2 separate regions of the Homo sapiens genome follow, and region 2 is linked to region 1. A link means that fine-mapping ties the variant in region 1 to the expression of a gene that starts in the linked region. Tissue or cell type: whole blood. Region 1 holds a variant in brackets; the other region holds the start of a gene. All regions are shown on one strand. Distances are from middle to middle.

Region 1 (8,110 bases):
GTCTTATGAGATATGATGGTTTTATAAAGGGGAGTTTCCCTGCACAAGCTCTCTTTTCTTGTGTACCGCCATGTGAGACAGGTCTTTCACCTCCTGCCATGTTTGTGAGGCCTCCCCAGCCAAGTAGAACTGTGAGTCCATTAAACCTGTTTCTTTTGTACATTGCCCAGTCTCGGGTATGTCTTTACCAGCAGCATGAAGAAGGACTAATACAACTAAAGTGATAAGAAACTGCCCTTCAGGTTTCTCTTCCCTTTTTTCTACATCTCTTGACTTCACTTAAGATCCGCTTTAGAAAGCCTCCCCATCTCTCTGGCACAGAATCACAAAATTGGCCCTATCTGCTAAATATATCTGGGCCTTGAGACTCTGGGTTACTCATCCTCTCTCTGTAAAATCTCCCCTATTTAAGTTTAAGCATCTTCATTGTCAAGAACATTTTTTCCAACCTCACTCACTCAAGTTATGATATAAATTGCTTTCAATTTAACTAACGTAGAAGTTGGTTACTGGTCTGCAAGTATCCCCTCTGTACTTTATGGATGGTCCTATACAGCCTTTTTCATCTCTTCCTCTAAGTGTGTGACAATGTCTGCTTGAATACAGGGAGTGTTTGCTAAGAAACACATTGTTGTGCTAGATCTAAGACAAAAACCAACACCATCAATGAAAATAGTTACATGGTATCATTATTTTCACCTGTGATTAGCTATGGGGTTTTTGTTAAAATCCAACAGACTGTATCTGAAAAACAATGTGATCTGAGGTGAATCAACGTTCTTAGAAAAATTCCAGTAACTCCTACTAAAAATTGCACACTACCATTAAATAAATTCACATGTTGCTAACAAAAACACACAGTTTAGATAATTGAATTCAGTTACTCTACAATGGAAACAGTACTATTTTGGAAAAGACAGAATTTTAACTGTCATTACTAGGCATGCTCCCATTCTCCCATTTTATTTCTTTGTATGAAAACATTTATTTTGAAATTGTCTATAGGCACAATTTGTCTGAAATGATAGATAATGAGAAATGCATAAGATATGTAATTAGCAGATACTTGCACAAAAAAAGAATAACCTAAAACTGGAATTTCTTCATTATTTTTCTGTGCCTAGAAAATCAAAGATCATATTCATCTTTTCTTCAAACTCTCTTACATGGTGTTTTGTTACTTTTATATTTTCTTATAATGAATGAGTTATCTTAAATGACCATCTTATCTTGCTCAGTCCTTTGTCCACATATTTCCATCTACAGCATTAGAGCACTAGAATTTGGCCCAATGATGGGCCAAAGTATGTTGATTAAATTACTAACTCCTATGAGTTCCCACCAACTTGAACATTTTCATTTTTGTTCATAAGGACATGAAAGGATTGCTGTGAACATTGTCTGCTTTCCTAACAGAATTACATTTTGACCTCTGATAATTGAACCTAAACTTTAGGGTGGGACTTTTCTCTGGAATATGTTAATTAGGACCCCAAGGAACTTAGCATATTTTGCTTATCTAACATATCCAATATGTCATTCTCTTTCTCCTGGAACAGATTCTCTTATAGAAACCATAACTTTTTTTTTTGTCTCAACAAAGATGCATTAAGCCTAGGCATGCCAGTTCCTAAAAGTATAGTAAATGTCATTGTGCAAACTTAGTTACTTCAAAAGGGCAGAATCATCAGAAGGCTCATAGCTGTTGGCTTTGTTTGTCACCTGAGAATGGAATTGAACAACTGCACCAAAGAATTTCTGTACTTGGTTCTAAGTGCTTTTCATGAAGACATAAATGTGTTCCATCATTTTATTTACTGTTTCTATATGTCTTCATCAGGATTCCTCCATTTGTCACCGTACATTCTGGGAAGGATAGCTCATTCTTGGATTATCAGTAACCACACATGGCAAGTATGTCATTGTTAATCAGTTGATTTGTGAGTGAATTCTACTATTAGCAATATCTAGAGTAGCTCACTCTTCTCTGAATTTTCCCAAAGCACACACTTAGCATGTGTTATGGGCTGAACTGTGTTCTCCCCCAATTTTTATATTGAAATCTCAACCCCCTTACCTTGGAATGTGATTGTATTTGGAGATGCGATCCTCATGGAGGTAATTAAGTTTGAATGAGGTCATGAGGGTGGGTTGTAACCCAATATGGCTGGTATCCTTATAAGAAGAGGAGAATAGGGCCGGGCACAGTGGCTCAAGCCTGTAATCCAGCACTTTGGGAGGCCGAGGCGGGCAGATCACCTGAGGTCAGGAGTTCAAGACCAGCCTGGCCAACATGGTGAAACCCCATCTCTACTAAAAACACAAAAATTAGCTGGGCATGGTGGCACATGGTTGTAATCCCAGCTACTCAGGAGCCTGAGGCAGGAGAATCGCTTGAACCCAGGAGGTGAAGGTTGCAGTGAGCTGAGATTGCGCCATTGCACTCCAGCCTGGGGGAAAAGAGCAAGACTTCATCTCAAAAAAAAAAAAAAAGTAGGACACAGGCACAAAGGGAAGACCAAGTAAAAACAAAGGAGGAAACACATTATAAGCAAAGGAGAGACAGAGCTTAGAAGAAATCAATCCTGTGAACCCAAAATATCTGAGACAGGTCTCAACCAATTTATCAAGTTTATTTTGTCACGGTTAAGGACACGCATGTGACACAACCTCAGGAGGTCCTGACAATGTGCTAAGGTGGTCAGGGTACAGCTTGCTTTTACACATTTTAGAGAGACAAGAGACATCAATCAATATGTGTAAGATGTAAATTGGTTCGGTCCCATAAGGTGCAACAACTTGAAGCAGAGATTTCCAGGTCATAGGTAGATAAGAGAGAAGAAGTTGCATTCTTTTGAGTCCTTGGTCAGCCTTCCACTGAATACACAATTTAGTCTGGCTCAGTGATTCTGCATTTTTACATAAACAATAGGGTAGAGGAAGAAATCAGATAGATGTGCATTTGTTTCAGGTAAGCAGAGGGGTGACTTTATGTCCTGCATCGGTGGAGATAAGCTATCCGTTTACATTGCCAGGGTGAAATTCAGCAGAACTGCGTTAGGGCAAAAATCTTGAGCCCCATGAAGAATTCCTTATAGGAAAATTGTGAGGGAAGTATGGAGCTCTTTTACCTTTTTAGCTATCTTATCTAGGAATAAAATAGGAGGCAGGTTTGCCTGAGGTAGTTCCCAGCTTGACTTTTCCCTTGGCTTGGTGATTTTGGGGGGTCCTAAGATTTATTTTCCTTTCACAACACCTTGATCTTGGACTTCTAGCTTCCAGAATTGTGGGAAAATAAATTACTGTTGTCTGAGCCCCCCAGTCTGTGGTACTTTATTATGCAGCCGTAGCTAGCTAATACAGTATGCCAACCCAGGCAACAGTTATTTATGCAATAGTATAGCTTCTAGAGGTCAACCTTATGAGATCCTTGGAATTAAAGTCCATGTCCTAAACATTTCTGTGTCCTCTGCAACATACTCTTTTGCACATAATAGATGTTTAATAAGTATAAACTGAACAAATTAATTTTAAAATACAGAAATAGTACAATATTTGTCTACAAGAATATTTTTAAGCAAGCTTTGAAATACATTTTTTAAAAATACATTTAATTTTTAAATACAATATTAAGGAAAAGGACTTGTAAGTATTATGATATTCTACTACGAATAATACCTAACATGGTATTATGATCTTGAAAGAGCTTTTATATATATGGTAATTGGATGAGTTCCCTACTGCTGCTATAACAAGTTACCATAAATAGAGTAACTTGAAATAACACAAATTACTCTCCTACAGTTGTGGAGGTCAGAAGTCTAAAATCCAGGTCTTATCGGGACTGCTGCCTCCCAGAGGCTCAGGGAAGAATCTGTTTCCTTCGCTTTTCCAGTTGGTAGAAGCTGCCTACATTCCGTAGCTCCTGGCCCCTTTCCCATCTTCAAAGGACATCCCTCCAACCTCTGGTTTTGTCATCACATCTTCTTTTTTTGACT[T/C]TGATCCTCCTGACTTCTGCTTATAAAGAACCTTGTGATGACGTTAAGCCTATCTGGATAATCTCCTCATCTCTAAACCCTTAACTTAACCATAGCTGCTAATCCCTTTTACCATAAAAAGTAATATACTCACAGATCCCAGTGATTAGGACCATGGACATCTTTGGAGGACCATTCATCAGACTACCACATTTTGGGCAAGCTCTGGGTTAGTCATGCTGTAACAGAAGCAAGTGAAGAGGCTAAAGCCGCCCTGGAGACTGCCCAGAAAAGGAAGTAGAGAAGAGAACCTGCTCCAAGGTGAGTATAAGTAAAAGCAGATAGGCAGGCAGAGGGTCAGTGTTTAAAAGGCATATCAAGCTCAGGAGTGGTCCCAGAAAATGAAAGTAAAACTTGTTCCCTGTTCCTGTCAAGCCCACCACCCTGGTAAATTAACTTTTAATTTATTTAGTAGGATGGAGAAATGGAAAGTATATGCCTGCTAAATTTGAAAATTAATTCCATTCAAACGATGAATTCTGGCAATCATTCCAGGTCCATGTCCTAAAAAGTACTTAACCTTTACAGAGATATCATATTAAAACATAATTTAATGGTCAACAGGTATATGAGAAATACTCAACATCCCTAATAATCAGGGAAATGCAAATCAAAACCACAGTGAGATATCATTAAATATTAGTAAATTAGTATAGCCATTATGGAAAACAGTATGGCAATTACTCAAAAAAACAAAAAACAGAACTATTATATAATCCAGCAACCCCACCATTGGATATTTATCCAAAGGAAAAGAAATCAGTATACCAAAGGGATACCTCCACTCGCATGCTTATCACAGCTCTGTTTACAATAGCAAAGATATGGAATCAACCTAAGTATCCATCAATGGACAAATAGATATAGGAAATATAGTATATATACACCACAATGGAATACTATTCAGCCATGAAAAGAATGAAATCATGTCACTTGCAGCAACATGGGTGGAACTGGAGGTCATTATGTTAAGTGAAATGATCCAGGCACAGAAAGACACACATCACATTTTCTCACACACATGTGGGAGCTAAAAAAGTTGATCACATAGAGATAGAGAGTAGAATGATGATTACCAGAGGCTGGGAAGAATGTGTCTGTGGTGGGAAGGGGGTAACAAAGACAGGTTGGTTAAAGAGTACAAACATACAGCTAGATAGAATAAGTTCTAATGTTCAACAGCAGAGTAGTGTGACTATAGTTAACAATGTATTGTATATTTCAAAATAACTAGAAGAGAGCACTTAAAATGTTCCTAGCTCTTGGAAATGATAAACATTGGAGGTGACAAGCACCCCAAAAACCCTGACTTGATCATTACACAGTCTATGCACATAACAAAATATCACATCTACCCCCATAAATATGTACAATGTGTATTAATTTTAAAATGTCAAAAAAAAAAAAAAAGGCTGAGCATGATGGCTCACATCTGCAATCTCAGCATTTTGGGAGGCCAAGGTGGGAGGTTTATGTGAGCCCAGGAGTTCAAGATCAGCTTGGGCAACACAGTGAGACCCCCTAATCTGTACAAAATCTTTATTTTTAATTTCAAAATAATTAGATATATAATAGCTTAATCACTTCAATAGCACTGCTGAGAAAGTGACACCATTAAATTTCAGATATATATATAATGATTATACCTCAGTAGGAAGTACAGACTATAAAGTTTAATAACTTATTCTGAGATTATGATCAACTAGGTACTCTGAGTAGGAATTTTACAGAAGTATAAACACAAATAAGCAAAAACCAAAGAAATTTTGGTTTGGAAAATAAATGGTGAATTTGATTGTTTTGTTTTGTTTTGATTTTTTGCCAGAATTTTTCAGATGTATTATCTACTTTGCCTAATTAGTCCAACCTTATAGCTGCATGAAGTGGACATACTTTATGACTCTCTTTAATCTTTCTACCAGTATCTATTGTTAAAGCAAACTAAATATAGCCTGAGAAGGACTCCATACTTCTATATTTGAGTCCTTGTAGATGAACTGTAATGTAGCTTAATAGTCAGACAAGATTGAAAACCTAATTTAGGAGTATGCACCTGTAATAATAGCTGTGGCCAATCCCAGCAGCCATACTTCAACCACTCATAGGCTGCTAAGTGTTCAAACTGTGTTCAAATAAGGCAAATGCCAACCTGTAACCAGTCCAGCCGTTGCTGTACCTCGTTGCTGATTTTTGTATGTCATTTCCCTCTTTTTGTTCTATAAATCTTCTCCCACCACATGGCTGCACTGGAGTCTCTGTGAATCTGCTGCGATTCTGGGGGCTGCCTGATTCGTGAATCATTCATTGTTCAAGCAAACTCCTTTAAATTTAATTTGGCTGAAATTTTTTCTTTTATCACTATTTACCAACTAACCATAGAGTTTTAAGATTTTCCTAAATATAAAACTAAATTATTTTTATGACAGCAAAAGTTAAAACTACTAAAATTATGCAAAGTTTCACACACACACGAACGTGTGTCATGCCATGAAAATATTCAAAACATACAAAAGCATTTGAATAATTTTGAAACCTCTAAAACATAACATGTTACAGGGACCTAGGGAAAGCTTCCCTTTAGCTTTCCAAAGGTTCACTTAAAATCAACTGACAAAAGGCAGATTAATAGGAGGAAGGCATACAAATTTATTTGATCATAGTTTTATATGTGACACAGGATCCTTCAGGATGAAGACCCAAAGATATAGAGCAAACTGTCCATGTTCATGCTTTGGTTCAGCAAAGTATGGTCAGGCTTGTAGAAATATGACTGGACAAAGAAGGCATGGTCTAAAACAAACAGACTGAGCGGGGAAGCCCGGCAAGGCCTGTCTGTCTGGATTCTTCTTGGCCTCTGTGCAGCATTCCTTCCTTCTGGGTATGGGACAGGACCCTCTCTAGAATGGGGGCTCTTGCAATCTACAATCAAACAAGGTAGGTCAGATAATTTCTTTATGACAAGTTTTTACACAGAAAGGTGGAGGTAAAGTTAAAGTAATATTTTTAGGTTTTTATGGCTGGCTTTGGGATAAAGGGTTCTGGTTTTCTATGACCCACCTTGGAGGAGGGATTCTAGTTTCTATGGCTAGCCTCAAGGGAGTATGAGGGGGCCAGAGACAGGAGGACCAGAGAAAGTCAGAGAAAAACTTTTGCTTCCATGCTGCTCTGAGACCTTCATTTTGGTGTATTATATTCTGACCCCCAACAATGTACATCACACATCACAACTGTTTTTAGTCACTATAGTTCATATGTCTGAGTAAATAGATGCATTCAGTATTCTCTGTCACTGGGTAGAGTAGCAAATAGGAGTTCATCTAACAGTTTAAACTTTTTACTAGCTCTGTAACTATAGGCAAATCACGTAACTTCGCTGAGCCTCAGTTTCCTTCTCTGAAAAATGAAAGAACTAAATTAGAGGATTGCATAAGTTGCTTCTTACTCTCAGATTCTACAATTTTTAAGTCTGTGGGTCCACTTTACCCACATGGTAAAACCCCACTATGGTGAATTTCAGATCAGTTTTGTAATTTTTAGTCAAATGAAATGTTAGGAAGTCACATATTATTAGAATTAAGGACCTAGAAATAAAACAGCTGAGAGAGAGAGAGATTAAGTGAAAAAAAGCACTGGCACATGTAAATTTCTTGCACTTTTTTTATTTCAATAGGTTTTTGGGGAACAGGTGGTGTTTGGTTACATGAATAAGTTCTTTAGTGGTGATTTCTGTGATTTGGGTGCACCCATCACCCGAGCAGTGTACACTATACCCAATGTACAGCATAGTCTTTTATCTCTCAGCACCTCCCATCCTTTCCCCCAAGTCCTCAGAGTCTATTGTATCATTCTTATGCCTTTGTATCCTCGTAGCTTAGCTCCAACTTATAAGTGAAAACATACGATGCTTGGTTTTCCATTCCTGAGTTACTTCACTTAGAATAATAATCTCCAATTCCATCCAGGTCACTGCGAATGCCATTATTTCATTCCTCCTTATAGCTGAGCAGTATTCCATAGTGTATATATAACACAATTCCTTTATCCACTCATTGTTTGATGGGCATTTGGGCTGG
Region 2 (8,110 bases), 430 kb after region 1:
CATTTGGTTTTTGATGCAATGATCAAATATTGCTATATTTTCACAACTTACCTGATATAGTTGCTACTTGAACTAATGTCCCATTTTCCTTCCAGTGAACATCATCAATTCCCTCAAAAAAGCAGGCAGCGCCTTGATTACACCAGAAAGGGGCATCCATTTCAGGTCGGAGATGGGGAAATGTACAGTTGCCAAGTTGGAAAAGTTCATACCATTCCATTGTGTAGTTCTTGCCAGTTAATGTACTTCTGAATCCAATGGCATCATGCATAATTTTCTGTGTAAAGACAGTACATGTATAAAAGCAACTGTGACACAACCATGGGTCCAGGTAACCTGATAGGAGAAAATGTGGCACATCACAAATGCATATCAAGTAGAACAACTGTTCAGCTGTTCTTCCATGCTGCTACTGTCATATCCACTCTGTGGCCCCAAACTCCAGGCCCTCATCCACCCCAGCTTTGGCCACTACACCCCTATTTGGCTCATCTCAAATAGGAGGCCTGCATGTTATGTGGACAAGCTGATAATTTCCTTAGAGCTTAGAATAAGTGTGAGGAGCCCCCATGCCAGTCTCTGGAAGCAGCTCTACAGACCTCACATGGTGATGGGTTAACCTGGAAAAGTGACTACAACAGAGTATGGAAATCAAGAGGTGTTACCTGCCTGCCCTGCCACTTCTGGGCCTCTTCTCACCTTCCAGGAGCTAGGTACAGGAGCTGGTTTCAGATTCATAATATTACAATGGATAATGGTGATTACATTTGTTGTTGTCAAGATTACAAAATCTGATAGTAACTATTTTTGACTACTCATTTTAAATGTACTAAGACAAACACCAACATGATCTAAAGTCAGCCATCTAAATAGTGATTACTCCTTAAAAATCAACTTAATAACCAAATCATTGAATTAACCAAAGTTATAAGACCAAGATGCATCCTTACCAAGTGTCCCAGGAGGTCTCCATATTTAAATTCCCATACTGGGGCTTGTAATCGAAAAACTTCAATGTCATCATCACCCTCCATAACTGGGATAGGTGAGCCAGTTGGACAGAAAGTATACTTAGCTTGACAATAAGGATCAGGTTTTGGACGGAAGTCAAAGCGCCTAATAAAGAAAAAGAAACCATCTACTTAGATTCTAAAATGAATCTGATTCTTCTCACGTCTTTTAGAATCCAGTAACATTTTTAGGGGACCATTCAAAGGTCGGACCATAGTTAATAAATATAAACACACATTTTGTTATCTTGTGAACAAACTTCCAATAATGTTTTTAATAGCAAATGATAAACTAAAAGCACTCTGATAAATACGGGCTTCCCTGTTCCCTGATCCCACTGTGAAAATTTTGAAGACAGGAATTTTGTCTTAAAATTTTTATAGCTCCAGATCATAGTAGACATTTGCAAATGTTTACAGAATAAATGAACATTTTTCCAATGTGTTCAATTTTACAAACAGTCCATACATTAAGATTATTCAGATAATTATGAGTAACAGAATACATTTTATATTTACTTACGAATTAACATTCATTCAACCAATATTTATTGAGGCTCCACTACATATATAGTGAACTATAGTAAGAAGGAGGGAAACAAAAATTAAAACACTGTTCCCTTTCTCATGGAACTGTGGGTGGGAGCTGGAAAGACACTGAACAAGTAATGAGTGTGGTATGTGCTAGACTAAAGGAATGAGTCCTATGGGCACACAGGAAGGACAAATCATTGTTAACCAGGTATGGGATGAATGGGGTGGGGAGGGCAAAGAAAGAGATGAAGGCCGGGCCTAGGTTTTTAATGTAGTTGATTAGAAGGTTAAGACAGAAAGGCAGAGGAAATGTTAAGTATTGTAAGACAAGCCTGGCACATTTGGTCTCCGGTAGGTACGGAAGACTGGATTTCAGGCCTCGACGCAGGAATGGAGACGGAAGAGACTGGCAGGGGCTGTCATTTTGTCACTAGGAGAATGTGCATGGAATTCCCTGCCTTATAATTGGGGAGGGCTAAACTTAAAGGATGTTAAGTAGCAGATCTGACAGGACTGAATTTGCTATAAAGTAAACCTTATTTCACGAATTAAAAGAGGGTATGGAGAGAGGCCAAATAAAACATGAGAGATCAGTTAGAAGGTGACCTCAACAATGCAGGCAAGAAAAGAAGACCGGAGAAGGCCACAGCAATAGGACTCGAGGGGCACTGCAGCTGAATTCAGCTCAACAGACACACTGGTCACCTATAATCTGGCACTGGGAAAGAAAGAAGTGGTGGCGACAACAGCTTCTATCTAAGAATCCTAGATCCCCAAGGTTGTAGCCAGATCTAACAAATCTTAACAAATCAACAAAAATTTCTATTTTAACTTAAGAAGTTAAAATCTTTATGCTAATCGAAACTATTAACGACGCTCCCAAAAGTTTCTGCTACTTGGGTACAGTGTTTTATAGGCACTTACCTGGTTTAAACAAATACATAATCACATGGAGATTTCACTGACACAGCAAAATCTATTTTAGTTCAAAGGTAATTTAAGTGTGAACTTAATAAACTTAAATATTATATTCAATTGAGGGAATTAGATGGGAGCACGTACTTAATATCTGAGACTTAAAAAAAAAATCCACTAAAAAGCCATAGTCAACACCTTGCCCTAATGTTAAATCAAATCGTTTGGATTTACAATTCTTGTTCTATTGAGTAATTTTGACTTCTTACAAACATTTTATTATTAACATTTTCCAGAAAACTAGCTTCAACCACAAACTTCTCTTTCCACGTAGTATATCACACAAAACAAAAAAGTGTTGTAAACATTTCAGTGAGCAGAATACACTATCTAGGTTTGACAACAGCTGGCATTTTACTAGATTTAATCCTTCCAGCAAACCTATGAGGTACGTGCTACCACTATTCCTATTTTTTGACTCAGGGCATGTGGGCACAGAGATTCTGAGTAACTTTCCCAAGATCCCTGGTGATGACAGAGCCAGATTTGACCCGCAGCAGGCAGAACTCCTTCCCACTCATACTGTCATACAAAATAGCTGTTTTTTTCAGGTTTGTTGTGTGCAGTTTTAGCTGTTGATTACTTATGCTAGTAAGTTAAAATTATGTCCAATGATGCTTTTGGTTTAAAGAAAAATAGCTGTTTTCAAAAACTGCTGGTCTTTCTCCTGCCTGATGTTGACACCATGTTTTCTTTCTCTGTGTTTAGCTATCTCTGACCGCCGGAGGCTGTGTCTTCTCTGTCAAAGGCTGGAATCGACCTCCCAGGTGTGCGGGCTCTGTCCCCGACTTAGGACCGGCGTCCTACCTCCAGGCTGAAGACTGGACAAAAGCGGTGACAATCTTCCCGGTCTAACCAGGACTGCAGGAGACGGGGATTCCCGGGATGCGCGACTTTTGAGGGCAAAACTGGGAAGTCCCAATAAGGACTTCGGATCAGGTTCTGATCAGGTTCAAACCAGAGCGAGTTGGTCGCCCAGTAAATTGTACCAAATGTTCCGCGGTAATAACTAACGACAGTGCATGATATAAATAAATGCGATAGACAGTGTTTTTAAACTACTCAAGAAATCAGCTACTTGTACCCAGAAGTCCCTCCATTAAATAACATTACTCTCCTTTTCTTCTTCCACGATTCAGGACTGTCCTGAGTCTGCCGCAAGTGACCAGAGGGGACGAAAGGTCCCAGGGCTGCACGTAACGAGCGGCTGCGACTCCCCAGTCCTCAACTTTGCTCTCAAGTGCGCTCCGAGCGTCACCCGGCGCTGTCCCCGCACCATCTCGTGACCCGACACAAACCACGGTGAGCAGGGGTCCCCGCCCCAGCACCCCATCCCCCATCGTCAACGCCGACCCCAACCCCGACAGTGCGCGCGCCGCCGCACTCACTTGTAGGGCACCGGCCAGTGGCGCCGGGAGGGGATGCCCGAGACCCGGGACCAGCCCGGAACCACCGCGAGCCAAAGCAGCGCCAGGGCCCAGCACCAGGAAGCGCGTCCCCGAGCCGCGCCCGCGCCCCGCCGCATCTCGGCGCCCTGTGCCGTGTCTACCTCCTGCGCCATCAGGCTGCACCCAGTACTTCCGGAGCCTCTCGAGGCCTGCGACGCCGGTGGGAGGAGCATGCGCGGAGCCGCCAGTCCGGGACGCGGGGCGCCTTGCCCCTGCGCGTCAGCTCCAGAGCTTGGCCCCAAGCGCAGGTTCCGGCGCATGACACCTCCCCGCGCCCGGCCCGCGGCGGCTTCCACACTTTGCAGTCCAGGAAGGTGCTTTGGTCTGGCTCCCAGGAGAATTCGATCCAGACCTGGGGCGTCATCTTTTATGAATTGACCTGTCCTTGCCCAAAAGCCACCACCAAAACCAAAAATCTGTCACCGGGGCTCCTCCCAACACCGAACTTTTACCCCATCCCACAGGGCCCACGCTAGGTGTCAACAAACGTTGAGTGAACGAGAATGTGTATTTGGAGCTGAGGGTGCAGGGCTGGGGGTGCAGTGAGGAAGAAGGGACAATAGTGCGGAAATGGCTCGTCGTCACCCGACCTGGGCCAGTCATAACAGTGGTTAACACTGACAATATGTGGTCCCTGCCACTCCCCAAGTGCTTAGTGGGGAAATGACTCGTCCTCACTCGACCTGGGCCAGTGATAACAGTGGTTAACACCGACAATATGTGGTCCCTGCCACTACCCGAGTGCTGCCGAATCTACCCCCTCCCCTACCGCTCCCCTCACAGGCAGGTGTTCCTTGCTTGGATCTGTCACTTCACTGGAAAGAAGTTTCTGCATCACCTTCTCTTCTTTGACTCTTCAACTAGGTCAAGAAAACAATGGCATCAATTACCCGGCTTTTGAGGAGCCTCTTGTGGCATGCTTTGCTGTTAGGCACAAATACTGACTTAAGTCTATACGTAGTACATTCAGGGCCTTGCCATAGTCACTTGTTTTTACCAGACAGCAGTTTTGCAGGGCCTTAGACCGGGACTTTCCAATTCCTTCACTTCACCCACAACTCGTGTGAAGCATCATAATGTTTGTAAGCCTATGGGAATAAGCAAGGTGGCTTCGGTAGCCGGAGATGACCACCACAATCCATTGGAGGATATGTAGCTTGTGGGGGTGTCACTGACTTCCTTGGGCCCTCCAGGTCTCTTGATTACATATGGGACTCAGTACCCTGCCCCAAACACACACTCCTTTGCCCACTTGCTGCTCCAGGTTTGGGGGTTTTGCGGAGGTTCAGGCTGGGCTGCATTTTACCATACGTTTGTCTAAGCGTTTTGATAGCTACCTAGCTCTCCTCCGTATACTATGGCCAAATTCAAAATTACCAAGGCTAAACTGGCTTCTTCAAAGACCTGCCCAAGATAAGAGGGGGAAGCATTCTAGCCCTGAGAGCTGAAATGTAATGTCTGATTTGAAGGGCACCTGAAGGATTCCGTGGCCCCACACTTGAGCCTAGCTTAAAAAGCAATCAGCAGGAACAGCTTTAAAAAAAAAAAAAAACATTGATTAGAGCATTTACAAATCCTGGAACCATACACAGTATGATGTATGAGGGCCACAGTAGATGGCCTCAACAACCAGAGCCTCCGTGGCTGCCTGGAGAGCGGTGATGCAGGCAGCAGCTTCATGAGATATTTGCAGTTTAATCCAGTCATCTGCAAGCACAATCTGCCCATCAGATTGGACTTTCTTGGAGGCAAAGAGAAGCAACTGCAGTGGGGTGACTAAAGTCATGCCTTTAGCAGAGATGGCTCGAGTTCAAATCTTTTCACCAAATACAAAGAAGGGAGATAGGTACTTCATGTCTTGGCTACTAAAAGGACAATTAACAGTAGATGGTTCCAGGTTCCATCTACTGTTAGTAGAGGGCCACAGTAGAACCTCCCATTCAGTTCAGGACTTCCCAGAGCTACAAAAACAAATTCAGGTTGACCTTGTTCAGTGGTGGAGGCCTCTGGTCTTGCTTCTGCCATCTGTCTCTTCATTCTGTGTGCAGGGAGCTTTCATGGTAAGAAAGCACTTCCTAGTATTGGTTTTTATTTTTTATTTTTTTGGAGACGGAGTCTCCTTCTGTCACCCAGCCTGGAGTGCAGTGATGTGATTTCGGCTCACTGCAACCTCCGCCTCCCGGGTTCAAGCAATTCTCCTGCCTCAGCCTCCCTAGTGGCTGGGTACAAGTGTGTGCCAGTTGTAATTTTTTTTTTTTTTTTTGGTAGAGACGAGGTTTCACCATGTTGGCCAGGCTGGTCTCGAACTCCTGACCTCAAGTAATCCACCTGCCTCGGCCTCCAAAAGTGCTGGGATTACAGGCTGTAGTCACCATGCCTGGCCCTAGTATTGGTCTTAACTCAGCCTCCTGGTAGCTCCCATTCTTCTGGTCTGGTTTTGCCTTGGATGGGAACACTGATTAAACCCCATTCTTTTTGTCTATGACCCCACACCCCAAGCTGAAGGTGCTCATAGATTATCGCTGGTCGATACTGGTTGCTTCCCCCTTGTCCATGGCTTTTAAATCTTGAGGGCCCACAGACAGAACTAATTTCAATCTAATTGGTTTCCCTTGGATCCTTGCCCATTCAGCCTAAGACTGCCTGGACCACATGGCATCTCCCCAGATAGAGTGATAGGATTCTGGGGAAGTGTGGAGTTGAGATGAAATTTAAATAAGCAGTATTTTGGTAGACTCAAAGCAAAACAAGGCTGTATGTCAATGATGGTAGTGGCTGCTCCAGACGGCCTGCTGCTGCCATCAACACACAGGCTCTAGGTCTAGACTGCAAAGTGGATGAAGGGCCTATTTCCTTGGAGACTATGAAGTTAAAATAGCGATGGAGTTTTGTGTCTGGAAACCCCTTATCAGAAGCTTGACATCTGGGTTGTAAATTGAGGCCAATTCTCTGTGTGGAATGACTGAGGTCCTTCAAGCAAAGGTGGGATATTTTATTGTTACTGATGTAATTTCAAACACGAAGTTGTCTCTAATCTATGATTTTAGAGAACAAAGTTTCTTAGTGAATAAGAAAGCAGGAAGCCAGGCAAGGTGGCATGTACCTGAAGTTCTAGCTACTCAGGAGGCTTGAACCCAGGACTTTGAGGCTATAGTGAGCTATAATCGTGCCTGTGAATAGCCACTGCACTTCAGCCTGGGTAACATAATGAGATACTGTCTCTAAGAAAAAATTTTTTTTTCGTGTAATACTTTATTTTCCATTGTATTAAATGAAAGCCAGGAAAATATCAAGTTATTTTTAAAGACAAATCTTTACTCCTTAAAGAAAAATACAAACTGTGGTATTTCTAAGATAGATCGTTACATTTTACATAATATAAACAAAATCACTAATGCATCTATATGCTTGGTTTCCTTAAGCTACAGTGAACCACAGAATGGGTTAAAATGCATTTACTTTTTGGTGGGAAATAAACATTGGAAAAAAATGTCACACATAGCATGGCTTTTTTTTTCTTACTGTCTACACACAGGAACTGACATAACCAAGCCTTAACAGATGCCACCTTCTCTTCCTTGTCCAAAGTAGCCAGTTCCATAGGCCCCCCTACCACCTCCTCGCTGGAATCCCCCAGATCATCTGTAGCCTCTACTAGGCCCTCTGTAATCTCCTCCAGAGTTGCCTCTATAGCCACCTCAGGAAACTTCTCTATAGCCTCCACCAACACCTGCACCATATCCTGCCCGACAGGAGCTGGAGCTGCCACCATAGCCTCCGCTACGATAGCCTCCACTGCTATAGCCACTGCCATAGCCTTCACTGCCATAACTAGAACCTCCCCTTCTATATCCGCTTCCATTGTCATATTGGGCCATCTTAGGAGGACCTGGACCATCTCCATACCATGTACTGCCAATCATAAGGTTGATATCAGCAGCTGAGGGTCTAGAGATTTGACGGATCATGTTCAGTATACTTTCATTTACGGGGTCCAACTGGCTGATGATAGCAGGTTGTTTGGTTACTTCAACAACCAGAGCCTCAGTGGCTGCCTGGAGAGCGGTGATGCAGGCAGCAGCTTCATGAGATATTTGCAGTTTAATCCAGTCATCTGCAAGCACAATCTGCCCATCAGATTGG

What was found. PIP is the estimated chance that this variant, and not a neighbour inherited with it, causes the effect.
Region 2: it holds the start of CLN5, and the variant in region 1 is fine-mapped to the expression of CLN5 in whole blood (TOPMed, PIP above 0.99).

The regions. Positions count from the first base shown.
Region 1 is chr13:77,421,656-77,429,765 of GRCh38, reverse strand. LOC124903185 reads right to left here. Exons shown (of 3, transcript XM_047430828.1): 3 at 6,664-6,956. The coding sequence ends at 6,828. LOC124903186 (a long non-coding RNA gene) reads right to left here and starts at 2,170. Exons shown (of 4, transcript XR_007063828.1): 1 at 2,078-2,170. RefSeq lists an enhancer at 1-163. The variant T/C (reference allele first, on the strand shown) is at 3,999.
Region 2 is chr13:76,988,069-76,996,178 of GRCh38, reverse strand. CLN5 (CLN5 lysosomal BMP synthase) reads right to left here and starts at 4,098. Exons shown (of 4, transcript NM_006493.4): 1 at 3,908-4,098; 2 at 951-1,116; 3 at 52-277. The coding sequence starts at 4,080. It also overlaps the pseudogene DHX9P1. RefSeq lists an enhancer at 2,594-3,793 and silencers at 3,815-4,054, 4,515-4,584, 4,675-4,764.